Homo sapiens: one gene and its partner. The gene in region 1 interacts genetically with each later gene. Each region holds a gene or a part of one and is shown in the gene's direction. Other genes may lie near its edges. The genes, in order: DNM1L and PEX11G.

What was found.
Region 2: of DNM1L (region 1) and PEX11G, changing one enhances a phenotype caused by changing the other (phenotypic enhancement), as found in Homo sapiens cells (one study listed by BioGRID).

Annotation. Positions count from the first base shown.
Region 1 is NC_000012.12:32,716,890-32,725,381, forward strand, and holds part of DNM1L (dynamin-1-like protein), read left to right. Parts: intron 1-1,753; coding exon 1,754-1,874; intron 1,875-3,774; coding exon 3,775-3,906; intron 3,907-5,537; coding exon 5,538-5,744; intron 5,745-8,492. UniProt on the Homo sapiens protein: Functions in mitochondrial and peroxisomal division.
Region 2 is NC_000019.10:7,485,626-7,494,037, reverse strand, and holds the start of PEX11G (peroxisomal membrane protein 11C), read left to right. Parts: upstream 1-5,002; 5' UTR 5,003-5,027; coding exon 5,028-5,087; intron 5,088-8,011; coding exon 8,012-8,200; intron 8,201-8,412. UniProt on the Homo sapiens protein: Promotes membrane protrusion and elongation on the peroxisomal surface.

The DNA of each region.
Region 1 (8,492 bases):
TTCTCACTTAACATGGTTAAACACCTAGGAATGGGACTGCTAATTTAACTTTATAAGAAACTGCCAGACTGTTTCCCAAAATGACTACACCACTCCCACCAGCAACGTGTGAGAGTTCCAACTGCTCTGCATAGTGTACAATTTTACCTATGGTATTTTTCAGTTACAAATATATATACATAGGTATATATATATATTTTATATATATATTTTATATATTTATATATATTTTATATATATACCTATGTATATATATTTGTAACTGAAATATATATACTATAAAATATATATAGTATATACTATATATATTTATATATACTATAAAATATATAGTATATATTATATATATTTTATATATAGTATATATAGTATATATATACTATATATTATATATACACTATATATTTTATATATACTATATATTATATATACACTATATATTTTATATATACTATATATTATATATAGTATATATAATATATATACTATATATAATATATAGTATATATAATATATAATATATATTTTAAATATATACTATATATATTTTAAATATATACTATATATATTTTAAATATATAGTATATATATTATATATATATAGTATATATATATATTTTAGACGGAGTCCTGCTCTGCATAGTGTACAATTTTACCTATGGCATTTTTCAGTTACAAATATATATACCTAGGTAGATATATATATAAAAAATACATATACCTAGGTAGATATATATATAAAAAATACATATACCTAGGTAGATATATATATAAAAAATACATATACCTAGGTAGATATATATATAAAAAATACATATACCTAGGTAGATATATATATAAAAAATACATATACCTAGGTAGATATATATATAAAAAATATATATACCTAGGTAGATATATATATTTGTAACTGAAATATATATACTATAAAATATATATAGTATATACTATATATATTTTATAAATATACTATATATAGTATATACTATATATATTTATATATACTATATATAGTATATATATAAAATATAGTATATATTTTATATATATATAAAATATAGTATATATAGTATATATATTATATATAGTATATATAGTATGTATAGTATATATAATATATATAGTATATATATTATAAATATATACTATACATACTATATATACTATACATATTTTATATATATACTATACATATTTTATATATATACTATATATATTTTATATATAATATAGTATATATATTTTATATGTATAGTATATATATATATTTTAGATGGAGTCCTGCTCTGTCACCCAGGCCGAAGTGCAATGGCACGATCTCAGCTCACTGCAACCTCTGCCTCTCGGGTTCAAGCAATTCTCCTGCTTCAGCCTCCCGAGCAGCTGGGATTACAGGCGTCTGCCACTGTGCCTGGCTAATTTTTGTATTTTTAGTAGAGATGGGGTTTTACCATGTTAGTCAGGCTGGTCTCAAACTCCTGATCTCAGGTGATCCACCCGCCTTGGCCTTCCAAACTGCTAGAATTACAGGTGTGAGCCACCGTGCCCGGCAAAAATGTTTTAAAAAATTATACACAATGTTTAACATTATTTTTAAAAAAGCACTGGTAAGTAAGGCATTACCAAAATGATGACAGAGGTAATACTAAGTGGGATTGTAGATGAGGGTTTTCCTTTATTAACACTAAATAGTTGTATTTAATGGATCATTTTCTTTCTTTTCTTTGCCCTTTTTTCTTTTTGCATTTACCAGGTCGCAGAACCCTAGCTGTAATCACTAAACTTGATCTCATGGATGCGGGTACTGATGCCATGGATGTATTGATGGGAAGGGTTATTCCAGTCAAACTTGGAATAATTGGAGTAGTTAACAGGTTAGCAGTTAGAATGGGATAAGAATTGGGATAAGCATTCTTAGAATGGGATAAGCATTCTCACTTCAGAGCAAGTCTGAATTTCTAAAATCTGTTTGAAATGTGATGCTGTACTATATTTTTTCTCCCTTTTATTATGATCTTGGTATTGCTAAAGAATCCGTTGCCCTAAAGGGAGAAAAGAGAGAGAATTTTTTTTTTTTTTTGAAATAGGGTCTCTCTCTGTTGCCTAGGCTGGAATGCAGTGGCGTGATTGTGGCTCATTGTAGCATCAACCTCTGGGCTCAAGTGATCCTTTCACTTCAGCCTTTCAAGTAGCTGAGACTATAGGTGTGTATCACCACACCTGGCTAATTTTAAATTTTTTTGTAGTGACAAGGTCTTGCCATGTTGCCCAGGCTTGTCTCGACTTCCTGGGCTCAAGCAATCCTCCAACCTTGGTTTCCCAGGTGCTGGGATTACAGGCATGAGCCACTGTGCCTGCCCCATAGACATTTTTACTGGAAAATGTTTCTAAAGTAAGCAATACCACAAAATGGAAGAAATGTTGTAATAGCCAGGCTTTAAGAATTCTTGCCTATCATGTTAAGCTATGTATGAGGAGGTACTGGGTAAGGGAAAAATTATCTAATGTGCACCCAATCGAGAAAGAGTTTAAGGTGGCAGGATTTTAATAGATTGGTTTTAATCCCTGGCATTAGTGATGCTTCTGTGTAATTGCCAGGATGTGACTTGGAGAAATTGTATTAAAGGTATCCTAATTTATAAATAGTTGGTATTAAAAACTGGGAAAAGGAAACTAGTATTGAGTGTCTAATTAAAGGTGACAAGATTTTAATAGATTGGTTTAATCCCTAGCATTAGTGATTCTGTGTAATTGCCAGGATGTGACTTGGAGAAATTTTATTAAAGGTATCCTAATTATAAATAGTTGGTATTAAAAATCGGGAAAAGGAAATTATTATTGAGTGTCTAATTACGTTTTAGACACTCTACTGTGAGCAATTTGCAAATGGTATCTCTTGGAATCCTCACAGCATCCCCTGAGGTAGGTGTTGATGTCTATTTTATAATCAGAAACCTCAGGTTATACATTTAACCAAAAGTCACGTGGGTAGTGAAAGAGCTGGATTCGGATGAATATCTCTTTTAGTCCAAAGCCTTCATATGGTAGGAAACACTGAAATTATCATGAAATCTGAGTTATAGTCCTAGTTCTTACATAAACTAGATACAACGTAGGTTTAAATGACACCTAATGTCTTTGGGTCTCAAGCCTTTAGAAAATGAAAATGTTTTTACTGCCTGATACATAAGATCCATTCCAGTTGTCTGCTTCTATTTTAATGTCCTTCCATTCCAACCCTACTGTCATTCTCCCATCCCCACTGTCATTCTCCCATCCCCACTCCCAATTCCAGCTGTCTCCTTTTTCAGGTAAGGAGGTGGCCTAACACTGTTCGTTGTTTGTAGATGATTGTTCTTCAAGTTAACTTAATTATTTTTGGGAGAAATTAGTTCCCTGTCCATGGATAAAATATACAGTTGACTAAGATACTCTTATATTTTTATACCTGTCTATACCTGTTACTTATTGTTTTTGTCTATAGTTAATGGTAATAATGAGGCCTACTCTATTTAGGCACTAGTTACTTACAATTCACTTAGTTCAAGTCTTGGCTATGCCAGTTAGTGTGTGACCTGGGGTAAGTTAGTTTTTGTGAGCCTCAGTTCCTTGCTATACAATGGGGTAATAATACCTGCCACATAAAATTATTGTGAGAATTAAATAAAACAGTCCCTGTCAGGTATTAGAGAACAATGCCTGGTGCTGTCATCATCTAAGGTAGGAAGAGGACAACAGTTAAGCTGAATAGTTTCGTTATTTTTTCAACCTCAGGAGCCAGCTAGATATTAACAACAAGAAGAGTGTAACTGATTCAATCCGTGATGAGTATGCTTTTCTTCAAAAGAAATATCCATCTCTGGCCAATAGAAATGGAACAAAGTATCTTGCTAGGACTCTAAACAGGTAATTTTTTTACCTTTTGGAAATGAGATGTGTTTGTTTTTACCAATTGGTGTCTGAGAGGGTTCATTTTCAGTTCCTTACATTTTCATACTGTTCCTAACAGCTTCACTTATGGTTTCTTATATAGTAGGTTCCTGAAGAGTAGATGTCTCTGTTTTTATTGGGGTGGTTGACATTACATCATCACGTAGTCTAGAATGAATGTACAAGTGATTTTAAAATGTTTTAATTACGAAAATTTTGACAGTTAATTTAGTTTTGTGGCTAGAACTAGAGATGACTTCATTTCCACTTTGCATTTCAGGAACTGATTAAAATTTGTAATTTTCACATTATCTATTCTTACCTTAGAATGTGTTTTATTTACCAGGAAAGGGAGATGGAAAAACAAAGAAATAGAATGTCTTTTATTTCTATTCACTGTAGAAATAACTATACGTTGGATTCTGAATACCCACTGATGTGTGGGGACTAGAAGCCCTTTCTAGATGATTTATAAATGACTGAAGTGGAAGCCATTTTCTCTTACTTTTATCTTATTCCCTAAAGACTGATAGACTTGGATCTTAATAAGGTTGATTTTCACTTTGCTGGGTACCAATTGTAAATGACAAGTCAATGAAACCAAAATTATATAGGAAGAATTGATTGGGTGGCTTATTTTCTCTGTGGTAATTGCAGTAATATGAAAATAATTTGCATTTTTTCCTTGCTTTTATTATTTAGGAAAAACCAATCAAAATTGTTTTTTTCCTTTTCACACACAGTTAATCAGTATAGCACAGAATGCTTTTGAGAGCAGATATATGGGGAGTTTTCCCCATACATCAAGCAAGGAATTCTCCAGGGGATTCTAGCTGAATGTCCTTTAATTCAATGCTAACACTGTTTACCTGGAGATAGTGTCAGCGCCCACAGGTTGAGGGTTCAGTCCCACAAGACTGCCCCCAAGTCAGATGCCAGTTGTAAGCACAGGTTGTAGCCTGTGTTTCTGACTGACAGGCTATAAGTCAGGGTACCCATGATCCCCTTTTCATGTTTGATGAATTTGTTAGAGTGGCTCACAGAGGTCAGGGAAACACTACTTAGCATATACCCACTTACTGTAAAGCATATTACAAAGGATATAGATAAATAGCCAGATGAAGAGATGCACAGGGCTGGGCATGTGGGAAGGAATGTGGAGCTTCCGTGCCCTCTCTGGGCACACCACACTCCAGGAACCTTCATGTGTTCAACTCTCTGAAGACTCCATGAACTGTGTCCTTTTGAGTTTTTATGGAAGCTTCATTGGCCATTGGTGATCAGCTCAATGTTTGGCCTCTCTCCTCTCTTCTGAGGCTGTTCTGGTGACCAGCTCCCATCCTGAAGCTATCTAGGGACCCCCAGCCACCAGTCATCTCATTAGCATGCAGAGACACTCTAAACACCCTTAATGCTCTTGGAGAGTCCAAGGATTTTAGGAGCTGACTGCCAGGAAATGAAGACAAAGACCAAATATATATTTCACAGTATCACATTTGCCAGGACAAATTATTTGATAGGTTTTCCCCATTGTAAAAATTTGACTTGTTTAGGGCTTTAGAATACACAATTTTACTTTTAAATCCTTCCTTTCTAACCTTTTTTAGGTTACTGATGCATCACATCAGAGATTGTTTACCAGAGTTGAAAACAAGAATAAATGTTCTAGCTGCTCAGTATCAGTCTCTTCTAAATAGCTACGGTGAACCCGTGGATGATAAAAGTGCTACTTTACTCCAACTTATTACCAAATTTGCCACAGAATATTGTAACACTATTGAAGGAACTGCAAAATATATTGAAACTTCGGAGCTGTAAGTAAGAAATTTTTCTGTAGATTTGGTTACCTAGATTGCTAGGTCACTTTTCCTTTTGTGAAGATGACTTCAGCTCAGATTATCTGATTAAGATTTATTTTCTATAAAACAAAAATATAACTTTGTAGAGATAATAGGATGATGTCTGGTTGTGTGAAAATATGCTTTGTAAATGATATAAAGCAAAGTAAAATTGTCACATATTTTTAAATATTTTAATATTTTATAAGTATTTACTTATTTTTATAAGTATTTAATAAGTATTAAATATTTTAATAAGTATTTAAAAATAATTTAGCTTTTAAAGTGTTTGTTTCTTTAGTACACACAGTATAATTGCTCACAAAAATTAGAAAATGCAGATAAGTAAAAATAAAACATAAAAACAAAATTACATGTTGGTGTGCACCTGTAGTCCCAGCTACTCAGAAGGCTGAGGTAGGAGAATTCCTTGAGCTCAGGAGTTCAAGTCCAGCCTGGGCAACATATTGAAATTCCATCCTTTTTTTTTTTTAATTGAATCCAAATTTTATTAAGGATTTCAAGTTACATACTTCAGATTTCTAGAATGGAATGGAATAATTTTGGAACTGGAAAAATGGCATAAACACTGATATCCCTTGAAACTTCAATTTTATAAAGAAAATTCTTCTGCAAACCACATCCCCATTATATAACAAGACCAGGTATTATCGACACCTTCACTTTGGCAATAACTATTTCCTAAAAGAATGAAAAAGATTATTTTGCTACCTCAGTTCGTTAAAAATGGGATTCTGGCCAGGCACAGTGGCTCATGCCTGTAATCCCAGCACTTTGGGAGGCTGAGGCGGGTGAATCACCTGACATCAGTTCAAGACCAGCCTGGCTAACATGGTGAAACCCCATCTCTACTAAAAATACAAAAACTAGCCGGGCGTGGTGGTGGGCAGCTGTAATCCCAGCTACTTGGGAGGCTGAGGCAGGAGAATTGCTTGAACCCGTGAGGCGGAGGTTGTGGTGAGCCGAGATGGTGCCACTGCACTCCAGCCTGGGCAACAGAGCAAGACTCTGTCTCAAAAAAAAAAAAAAAAAAAAACAGGGATTCTATCTTTAAAGTTCAGAAAAAGCTGCATTTAGATGAACTACGGCTACCAAAACAAACAAAAAAACAGAGTGTCTAATCAAAGCAAAGGAAATGATTTTGAAAATAGAACAAAGCTATTATAATTGGTTAAGGATTTCCAGTAGTAAGTTAAAATCTCAGGAGAGGAATGGATAGCATTACAAACAATGTGTTCACATTCCAAGACCTGAACACTAACTTCTCAAAAAGGAAGTTTTCATCACCTCTAAAAATGAATTCAATGTAATTTTGTTAAGAGCAGGAAATCTAGACCTTCCTCTAATGACAATCCAATAGTCCACCCTCGCCATCGTCAAAAGAAAGTTGCCTCAAAATTAACAGTAATTAGCCTGAGGTATTGTAAATGTGGCACTACAGTCTGAAATTTAATGGCATCTTTTGTCAAAAATAGTCTTATCTCTACTTTAATCTCATGACTACAATACTATGTGCTATCCCTGTAGTATTTACTACTATGCAGTCATACAGAAAAAAATTGTTGGACCTTGTGAAATAGTGCATCCATCTACTTCTATAAAAATAGGAGCCACATTGGCCAGGCGCAGTGGCTCACGCCTGTAATCCCAGCACTTTGGGAGGCTGAGGCAGGCAGATTACGAGGTCGAGAGATCAAGACCATCCTGGCCAATATGGTGAAACCCCATCTCTACTAAAAATACAAAAATTAGCTGGGCGTGGTGGCACGTGCCTGTAATCCCAGCTACTTAGGAGGCTGAGGCAGGAGAATCGCTTGAACCCAGGTGGTGGAGGTTGCAGTGAGCTGAGATCGCACCACTGCACTCCAGCCTGGGCAACAGAGAGAGACTCTATCTCCAAAAAAAAAAAAAAAAAATATATATATATATATATATATATATAAATTATATTAATTAAATATAAATTAAATATTTAATATATATATAAAAAATAATAATATATATAATAATATATATAGAAGCCACACAAAGATCACTAACTGATAGTTTAGTTTGATAACTGTTTTCCAGTTTAGTTGTCAAAGCATGGTGTGAACAAAATGCTGAGTGTCAACACTGGCATTACAAATAGGCCCAAAATGTGAGCTTTTAATGAGAATGAGAAACATTTTATGAGATTTAACTGAATATGCCTTAACACATCCATGAGGTAGTTAAGTAAACAGTACTACACATTTTAATACATAGTAAACAGAAGCATGGGTAAGTGACATACTCATACTTCAAGCAATAAGAATTAGAAGAAACCACACAGAAGCTTGGGGCATTCTCTCTAGCTCTACCCCAAAGAAAATGAACTTTAATTTTTTTTTTTAAAGCATCGTATCACTGAAGATTTTCTTCTTCTTCTTCTTTTTTTTTACACTTGCTTATTAGTATAGTATCTCTTTCCAAAGCTGGTACCCTTTTCAATAATGTGGTAAAAACTGAGTATAACCCTTAATTCAAGCTAGGCCTCTCCTTCTACCTGAATTGGTACAAAATTAAGACATCTTGTAAGAACTAAAATTGTATTTGAAATTTTTATTTTAGGCTACAAAAACAAGCAAACAAACAACAAATAACTTGAAAACAGGTCTTGTCAAATGATGTAAGTTCATCCTTTCCAGGGAAGCAGAAGGTAGACCCTACCACAAAGAAAAG
Region 2 (8,412 bases), on another chromosome or scaffold:
CTACTTGGGAGGCTGAGGCAGGAGAATCACTTGAACCCAGAGGCAGAGGTTGCAGTGAGCTAAGATCATACCACTGTATTCCAGCCTGGGTGACAGAGCGAGACTCTGACTCTAAAAAAAAAAAAAAAGAGTGACCCCCCCACTGGGGGAGAGGGGAGTGCACAAAGACCCGTGGACCCAAGTCTTTTTTTTTTTTTTGAGACGGGGTTTCACCATATTGGCCAGGCTGGTCTCCAACTCCTGACCTCAAGTGATCCACCTGCCTTGGCCTCCCAAAGTATTGGGATTACAGGTGTGAGTCACTGAGCTCAGCCAGTGGACCCAAGTCTTAAAAGGAGCTGGATGTGGAAGTTAAAGAGTCTCTTGGGGCCAGGTGTGGTGGCACACACCTGTAATCCCAGTGCTATGGGAGGCTGAGGATGGAGGATCACTTGAACCCAGGAGTTCAATGCAGCAGTGGTGCTATGATCATGCCACTGCACTCCAGCCTGGGCAACAGAGCGAGACCCTGTCTCAAAAACAAACAAGAAGAAAAAAAAAAGAGGCTGGGCATGGTGGCCCATGCCTGTAATCCCAGCAGTTTGGGAGGCCGAAGTGGGTGGATCACTTGAGCCCAGGAGTTTGAGACCAGCCTGGCCAACATGGTGAGACCCTATTTCTATTAAAAACTCCAAAAATTAGTGGGGGCGTGGTAGCAGGTGCCTGTAATCCCAGCTGGTTGGGAGGCTGAGGCAGGAGAATTGCTTGAACCCGGGAGGTGGAGATGGCAGTGAGCCGAAATCATGCCACTGCACTCCAGCCTGGGCAACCGAGTGAGACTCTGTTTAAAAACAAAAACAGAAAGAGAGAGAGACAGAGAGGAAGAAAATCACAGGAGTGGACAAGGCCTTTCTTGTGCCCCCTTGTGTTCCATGCTCCCTTGGAGCACAAGAAGAGATCTTTGGACAGGGCAGTGAAACTTACAAAACAGATTCTCTGTTTTCTGCCAGGCTGTGCGGATATAGCCATGAACAAGACAGGTCACCAGCAGGTAACATGGGTAGGAAGTGTCCAGGAGGGTGTGATCGGGTGGGTCCCGTGAGAGGATGACATTCGAGTAAAGGAAGTTAGGGAAGGAGGGAGCCACGTTGGTATCTGGCTCAAGAACATTTCTGCAGAGGAAACAGAACATGCAAAGTTCCTGAGGCAGGAATCTGCTGTAACTTTAAACAACAGGAGGAAAGCAATGCAGGAGAAGAGTAACAAGAGTTGAAATCAAGAGGAAATATTCTGTGAAAGAAAACTGGTTAACATCGAGGCCAGACGCGGTGACTCACGCCTATAATCCCAGCACTTTGGGAGGCCGAGGTGGGCAGATTTCTTGAGATCAGGAGTTGGAGACCAGCCTGGCCAACATGGCGAAACCCCGTCTCTACTAAAAGTCTAAAATTAGCCGGGCACAGTGGCGGGTGTGCTGTAATCCCAGCTATTTGGGAGGCTGAGGCATGAGAATCGCTTGAACCTGGGAGGTGGAGGTTGCAGTGAGCTGAGATCAGCACTGCACTCCAGCCTAGGCAATAGAGTGACACTCTGTCTCAAAAAAAAAAATTCAAACAAACCAACAAACAGACTCGTTGACATCATTAGTCATCAGGAAAAGGCAAAACAAAACCACAATGGGGTGGCACGTCACACCTACTACGATGGCTATCATAATCAAAAAAGGATGTTGCAAGGAAGTGGCGAAATTGGAACCTTTGTGTAATGCTGGTGGGGATGGAAAATGGTACTGCTACTGTGGGAAACAGTTGGGCAATTACTCAAAAAGTTCAACATAGAGTTACAAAATGACCCAGCAACCCCACTTCTAGGTATAGACCCAAAGGAATGGAATCCAGGGACTCCAACTACATATTCACAAATGTTTATAGCTGTACTTATTCACGATCGCTAAAAGGCAGAAACAGCCCAAATGACCATCAGCTGATACGTGGATAAACAAAATGTGGTCCATCCATATGGCGCAATGTTATATAGCTGCAAGTGGAATGAATTTCTGATACATGCTGCAACTTAGACAAACCTCAACACCATTATGCTCAGCTGCACGCAGTGGCTCACACCTGTAATCCCAGCACTTTGGGAGGCCAAGGCAGGAGGATCCCTTGAGTCCAGGAGGTCGAAACCAGCCTGGTGAACATAGCGAGACCGCATCTCTACAAAAGAAAAATTTTAAAAATTGGCCAGATGTGGTGGCGTGCACCTGTAGTCCCAGGCAATGTGGAGGCTGAGGCAGGAGGATCTCTCAGGCCCAGGAGTTCAAGGCTGCAGTGAGCTATGATCACACCACCGCACTCCAGCCTGGTGACACAGCAAGACCCTGTCTCAAAAACAAAAAGCAAAAACCAAAACAACCTATTATGCTTGGTGGAAGAGGCCGACACAAATGGTCACATATTGTATGATTCCATTTGTATGAAATATCAAGGAGGTCGGGCATGGTGGCTCATGCCTGTAATCCCAGCACTTTGGGAGGTCGAGGCAGGCAGATCCCTTGAGGTCAAGAGTTCAAGACCAGCCTGGCCAACATGGTAAAATCCATCTCTACTACAAATACAAAAATTAGCCGGGTGTGGTGGTGCGCACCTGTACTCTCAGCCACTTGGGAGGCCGAGGCAGGAGAATTGCTTGAACTTGGGAGGCGGAGGCTGCCGTGAGCTGAGATCATGCCACTGCACTCCAGTCTGGGTGACAGAGTGAGACTCTGTCTCAAAAAAAAAAAAAAAAAAAAAAAATCAAGAAGTGGTAAAAATACAGAGAGACAGCAGAGAATGCAGATTAGTGGTTGCCAGGGGCTGGGAGGAGGGAGGAATTGAGTGATTGCTTTATGGGAACAGGGTGTAGGGGAGGAAACATACTTTTTCCTTTATTCTTAGTTCTTAGCTGTGATGGATCCTTGCAATGAAAGAATTAAGAAGGGCGGGTGCGGTGGTTCACGCCTGTAATTCCAGCACTTTGGAAGGTCGACGTGGGAAGATTGCTTAAGCCCAGGGCTCAAGGCCAGCCTGGGTAACATGGTAAGACTCCATTTCTACAAAAAATAAAAAATAAAAAGAAATTAGCCAATTGTGGTGGCAGGCACCTGTGGTCCCACCTACTCAGGATGCTGAGGTGGCAGGATGGCTTGATCCCAGGAGTTCAAGGCTGCAGTGAGTTAAGATCGTGCCGCTGCACTCTACCCCTTTTTTGTGGGTAGTTGGTCAAGCTACCATGGGGCAGAATGTAGCAAGCTCTGGGCATCATCCTGGGTCCTCAGGCCCAGAGAGCACACAAGTGGCGGCTTCACATCTACAAATTTGGTTCCTCCCAGAGCGAGGCCCTGTCTCAAAAAAAAAAAAAAAAAAAAAAAAAAAAAATAGAGGCCAGGCGCGGTGGCTCACGCCTGTAATCCTAGCACTTTGGGAGGCAGAGACGGGCGGATCACGAGGTCAGGAGATCAAGACCATCCTGGCTAACACGGTGAAACCCCGTCTCTACTAAAAATACAAAAAAAAAAAAAAAAAAAAAATTACCCAGGCGTGGTGGCGGGCGCCTGTAGTAGTGCCAGCTACTCGGGAGGCTGAGGCAGAAGAATGGCGTGAACCCGCGAGGCGGAGCTTGCAGTGAGCCGAGATCGTGCCACTGCACTCCAGCCTGGGCGACAGAGCGAGGCTCCGTCTAAAAAAAAAAAATTAACAAGGGAAAAACAAATTTATTAACATGTGTACCTTATGTGTACATGGGAGATGCCAAGAGAAATGAGGTGGCTTATATAGCTTATATAACTCCTGCTTATATAGCACCTTCAACATATAGCAGCAAATTTTTGGAGAAGTGACAAGACGAAGGAAAAGGACATTGAGGCCGGGTGCGGTGGCTCACGCTTGTAATCCCAGCACTTTGGGAGGCCGAGGCGGGCGGATCACTTGAGGCCAGGAATTTGAGAACAGCCTGGCCAACGTGGTGAAACCCCGACTCTACCAAAAATACAAAAATTAGCCGGGCACAGTGGTGCACAGCTGTGATCCCAGCTACTTGGGAAGCTGAGGCACGAGAATCGCTTGAACCAGGGAAGCGGAGGACGCAGTGAGCAGAGATGGCGCTACTGCACTCTAGCTTTGGGGACAGAGCAAGACTCCGTCTCAAAAAAAAAGAAAAAAAAAAAAAAGACGTCTCCAGACAAGAGTCTAAAGGTGTCCCTGGTGATCAACCTTTGTCCTTCCTGGTAGAGAGGGGAGGAGGGCACCTTTGTACCTTTAGGTCCTGCTTTGAGGCAAATCAGGGAAGAACAGAGAGCTTTTCCGGTATCAGCTTCATTGATCTCAGCTCAAAATAATCCTACACCAAGGTCGCATATTTCAGAGGGGCATATGCTGGTCTCCTACGGGGGTCTCTCTTGGGGGTGATAAAAATACCCCGAAACTAGCAAGGGGTGATGGTTGTCCAACATGTGCATGTACTAATGTCACTGAATTGTGCATTTTTATTTTTTATTTATGTATTCTAGAACAATTCTTAACGTCCAAAGATAACGTCTTTCCTTAACGTCGAAAGATGCCTTGTTGTGATATTACAGCAGTCATTCCTGCTCACTACGGGCAGGCAGACAGTGCAGAAAAGGTGAAGCACAAAAACTAAAAAGGAAAATCTCTCCTTGAACCACTGCGAACAGGTTGGTGGTTTTGCTTGGAATATTTTTGGAGCGTGTGGGTAGTTGGTTAAACTTAGAAATATATTTTTTTGTGCGTGGGTAGTTGGCCAAACCGCCGTGGGGCAGAATGCAGCAAACTCCGAGGATGATCCAGGGTCTGCAGGCCTGGAGAGCACACACGTGTCGGCCCCACCTCTGCAAACTCTGTCCCTCCCCTACAGCGGACAAAAAGCCGGTCAGGGGGACAAAGGCCTGCGGCCGCGCCTGCGCGCAAGCCTTTGGGGCGCTCCCGGTACCCCGGCCTGGCCCCGCCCCCTGGCGCGGCGCGCCGACGTCGCGGTGACGTCACGGAGTTGCCATGGCGTCGCTGAGCGGCCTGGCGTCGGCGCTGGAGTCGTACAGGGGCCGGGACCGCCTGGTGAGGCAGGGGCGGACCGGGGCCGGAGGTCCTAGAGTTTGGCCCAAGCTCAGAGACTGGGAAACGGGCCAGAGAGGGGACGGGGTCGCCCAGGATACTCCGTCGCAGAGGCCCCGTCCGAGCTAGGCTCAAATGCGGTGCCCTAGCATTGGACATTTATGTATTTATTTATTTTGGCTGGAGTGCAGTGGTGCGATCTCTGCTCACTGCAGCCTCCGCTTCCCGGGTTCAAGCGATTCTCCTGCCTCAGCACTCCCGAGTAGCTGGGACTACAGGCGCCCGCCACCACTCCCTGCTATTTTTTTGTATTTTTAGTAGAGACGGAGTTTCATCGTGTTAGCCAGGATGGTCTCGATCTCCTGGCCTCAAGCGATCCACCTGCCTCGGCCTCCCAAAGTGCTGGGATTACAGGCGTGAGCCACCGCGTCTGGCCAGCGTTGGACATTTAGATAGTTTCTGCCAACCCAACCTGTCTGGACATTGACACACTGGCCAGATTCCCGTGTTTGGACGTTTTGGATCCGACCAGGCCACTGAAGTTGTCCTGAACAATCTCGTGTTGGGATTTGGGATGTTGCAGGGCTCCCCTGTGGCTGGACATTCACTTCCAACCAGATTCCCTATAGTTGGGCATTTAGGTTGTTTCAGCCAACCTAGACCAAAGAACACGCCATGGCCTGGGCCCTGCCATGCCTAAGCAGCGATGGGTTCCAACAAAACCCCAGTTGGTCATTTAGATCGTCTCTGCCAACCCAGCCTGGCTGGACGTTTACATACCAAACAGATTCCCATGTTTGGACATTTAGGATCTGACCGGGCCACTGTAGTTGGTCCCTGGGTTGTCCCAAACAATCTCATGTGGGGATTTAGGATATTGCAAGACTCTCCCTATGGCTGGACAGTTTTTAGTTCCAATCAAGTCCCATATGGTTGAACATTTAGGTTATGCCATCCATGCCCCTGAGTCTGGACTCTTAGCTTGTCCCCACCAGTCTCTTATAGGTAGACATTCAGGTTGTACCAGGCGGTGTACTGGTGGCTAGGCATTTAGATTCCATTCAAATATCTTATGATTGGGGGGGTGGGTTAACAAATCTCCCCCGAGTTGAACATTCAGATTGCAGTGTTTTGCCATTATAATGGGGCTGGAAAGGAATTACAAGTAAAAATAAATAAAACAACAGGAACAAGCAATTTCTGAAAAGCAGGTAAAATAAAGATATAAGGGAGGCCAGGCGTGGTGGCTCGCGCCTGTGATCCTAGCACTTTGGGAGGCTGAGCTGGGTGGATTGTCTGAGCTCAGGAGTTTGAGACCAGCCTGGGAAAAGTGATGAAACCTCGTCTCTACTAAAATACAAAAATTAGCCGGATGTGGTGGTGCGTGCCTGTAGTCCCAGCTACTTGGAAGGCTGAGGCGGGAGAATTGCTTGAACCTGGGATGCAGAGGTTGCAGTGAGCTCACACCTTTGCACTCGAGCCTGGGGAGCAGAGCAAGACTCTGTCTCCAAAAGAAAAAAGATCTGAGTAGTGAAGATGACCTATTTCAGAAGGCTCCACATCACCTACTGAGTAGGTTCTTTCTCTCTAAAGTAATTCTACCAAATTATCCTGTTGTTCACTGGGTTGAGGCCTGATCACCTGTGCCCACCATTCAGCACATCCAAAGGCTTTGGTCCAGGCAGGTAGATGTAAATATACACTTTAGCTGTGGCTTCCTGCCACCTGGGAAAAGAAGGACCTAGGAGGTGGGAAGTAAGGAGCTTTGTTTTCTTTGTTCCTGTCACATCTGTTCCCAAAGGCTGTGCCCTTCAGTTACATCAATGATGTCATGTTTCTTCATTTGTCCCACCTCCAAGTATGTTTTTAAACTTCCAGCTTTTTTTTTCTTTTTCTTTTTCTTTTTTTAGACAGGGTCTCGCCCTGTTGCCCAGGCTGGAGTGTAGTAGCACGATTACAGCTCACTACAGTCTGGAACTCCTGGGCTCAAGTGATCCTCCAGCATCAGCCTCCCAAGTAACCACCATGCCCTGTTAACTTAAAAAAATTTTTGGTAGCCAGGCGCGGTGGCTTACGCCTGTAATCCCAGCACTTTGGGAGGCCGAGGCGGGTGGATCATGAGGTCAGGAGATCAAGACCATCCTGGCTAAAATGGTGAAACCCCATCTCTACTAAAAATACAAAAAATTAGGTGGGCTTGGTGGCGGGTGCCTGTAGTCCCAGCTACTCGGGAGGCTGAGGCAGGAGAATCGCATGAACCCGGGAGGTGGAGCTTGCAGTGAGCCGAGATCGCGCCACCGCACTCCAGCCTAGGTGACGGAGCAAGACTCCGTCTCAAAAAAAAAAATTTTTTTGGTAGACACAGGGTCTTGCTATGTTGCCCAGGCTGGTCTCAAACTCCTGGTGTGAAGGCATCCTCTCACCTCGGTTTCTCAAAGTGCTGGGGTTACAGGTGTGAGCCACTGTGCCCCACCTAAACTTTCAGCTTTTACTGTCACTTTGTAGATTTAGAATCTTCCAAACTCTTGGGTCAGGCACGGTGGCTCATGCCTGTAATCCCAGCACTTTGGGAGGCTAAGGCAGGTGGATCACTGAGGTTATGAGTTTGAGACCAGCCTAGCCAACCTGGTGAAACCCTGTCTCTACAAAAAATATAAAAATTAGCAGGGTGTGGTGGTGGGCGCCTGTAATCCCAGCTACTGGGGAGGCTGAGGCACAAGAATTGCTTGAACATGGGAGATGGAGGCTGCGGTGAGCCGAGATCGTGCCACTGCACTCCAGTCTGGATGACAGAGTGAGACTCTTTCAAAAAAAAAAGAGAATCTTCCACACTCTCAATCCAGCGGGGCCCGGGGCCAGGTATGGGGGGATGCAGCTCAGTTCTGCAGAACAGGAGGGCCACACTGACTGCTTCTGGTTTCCCACAGATCCGAGTGCTGGGGTACTGCTGCCAGCTGGTTGGTGGAGTTCTGGTTGAACAGTGTCCCGCCAGGTCCGAAGTGGGGACACGTCTGTTGGTGGTGTCCACCCAACTCAGCCACTGCAGGACCATCTTGCGACTCTTTGATGACCTGGCCATGTTTGTCTACACTAAGCAATATGGCCTGGGGGCACAGGTAACAGGGTTTGTGGGGCTCTAGGGAGTAGGGTGCGGACCTGAGTGGACATTTTTTAAAAAATTTTTTGGCCCCTCACAGTGGCTCATGCTTGTAATCCCAGCACTTTGTGAGGCCAAGGCTGGCGGATCATGAGGTCAGGAGTTCGAGACCAGCCAGGCCAACATGGTAAAACCCTGTCTCGGCTGGGTGCAGTGGCTCATGCCTGTAAT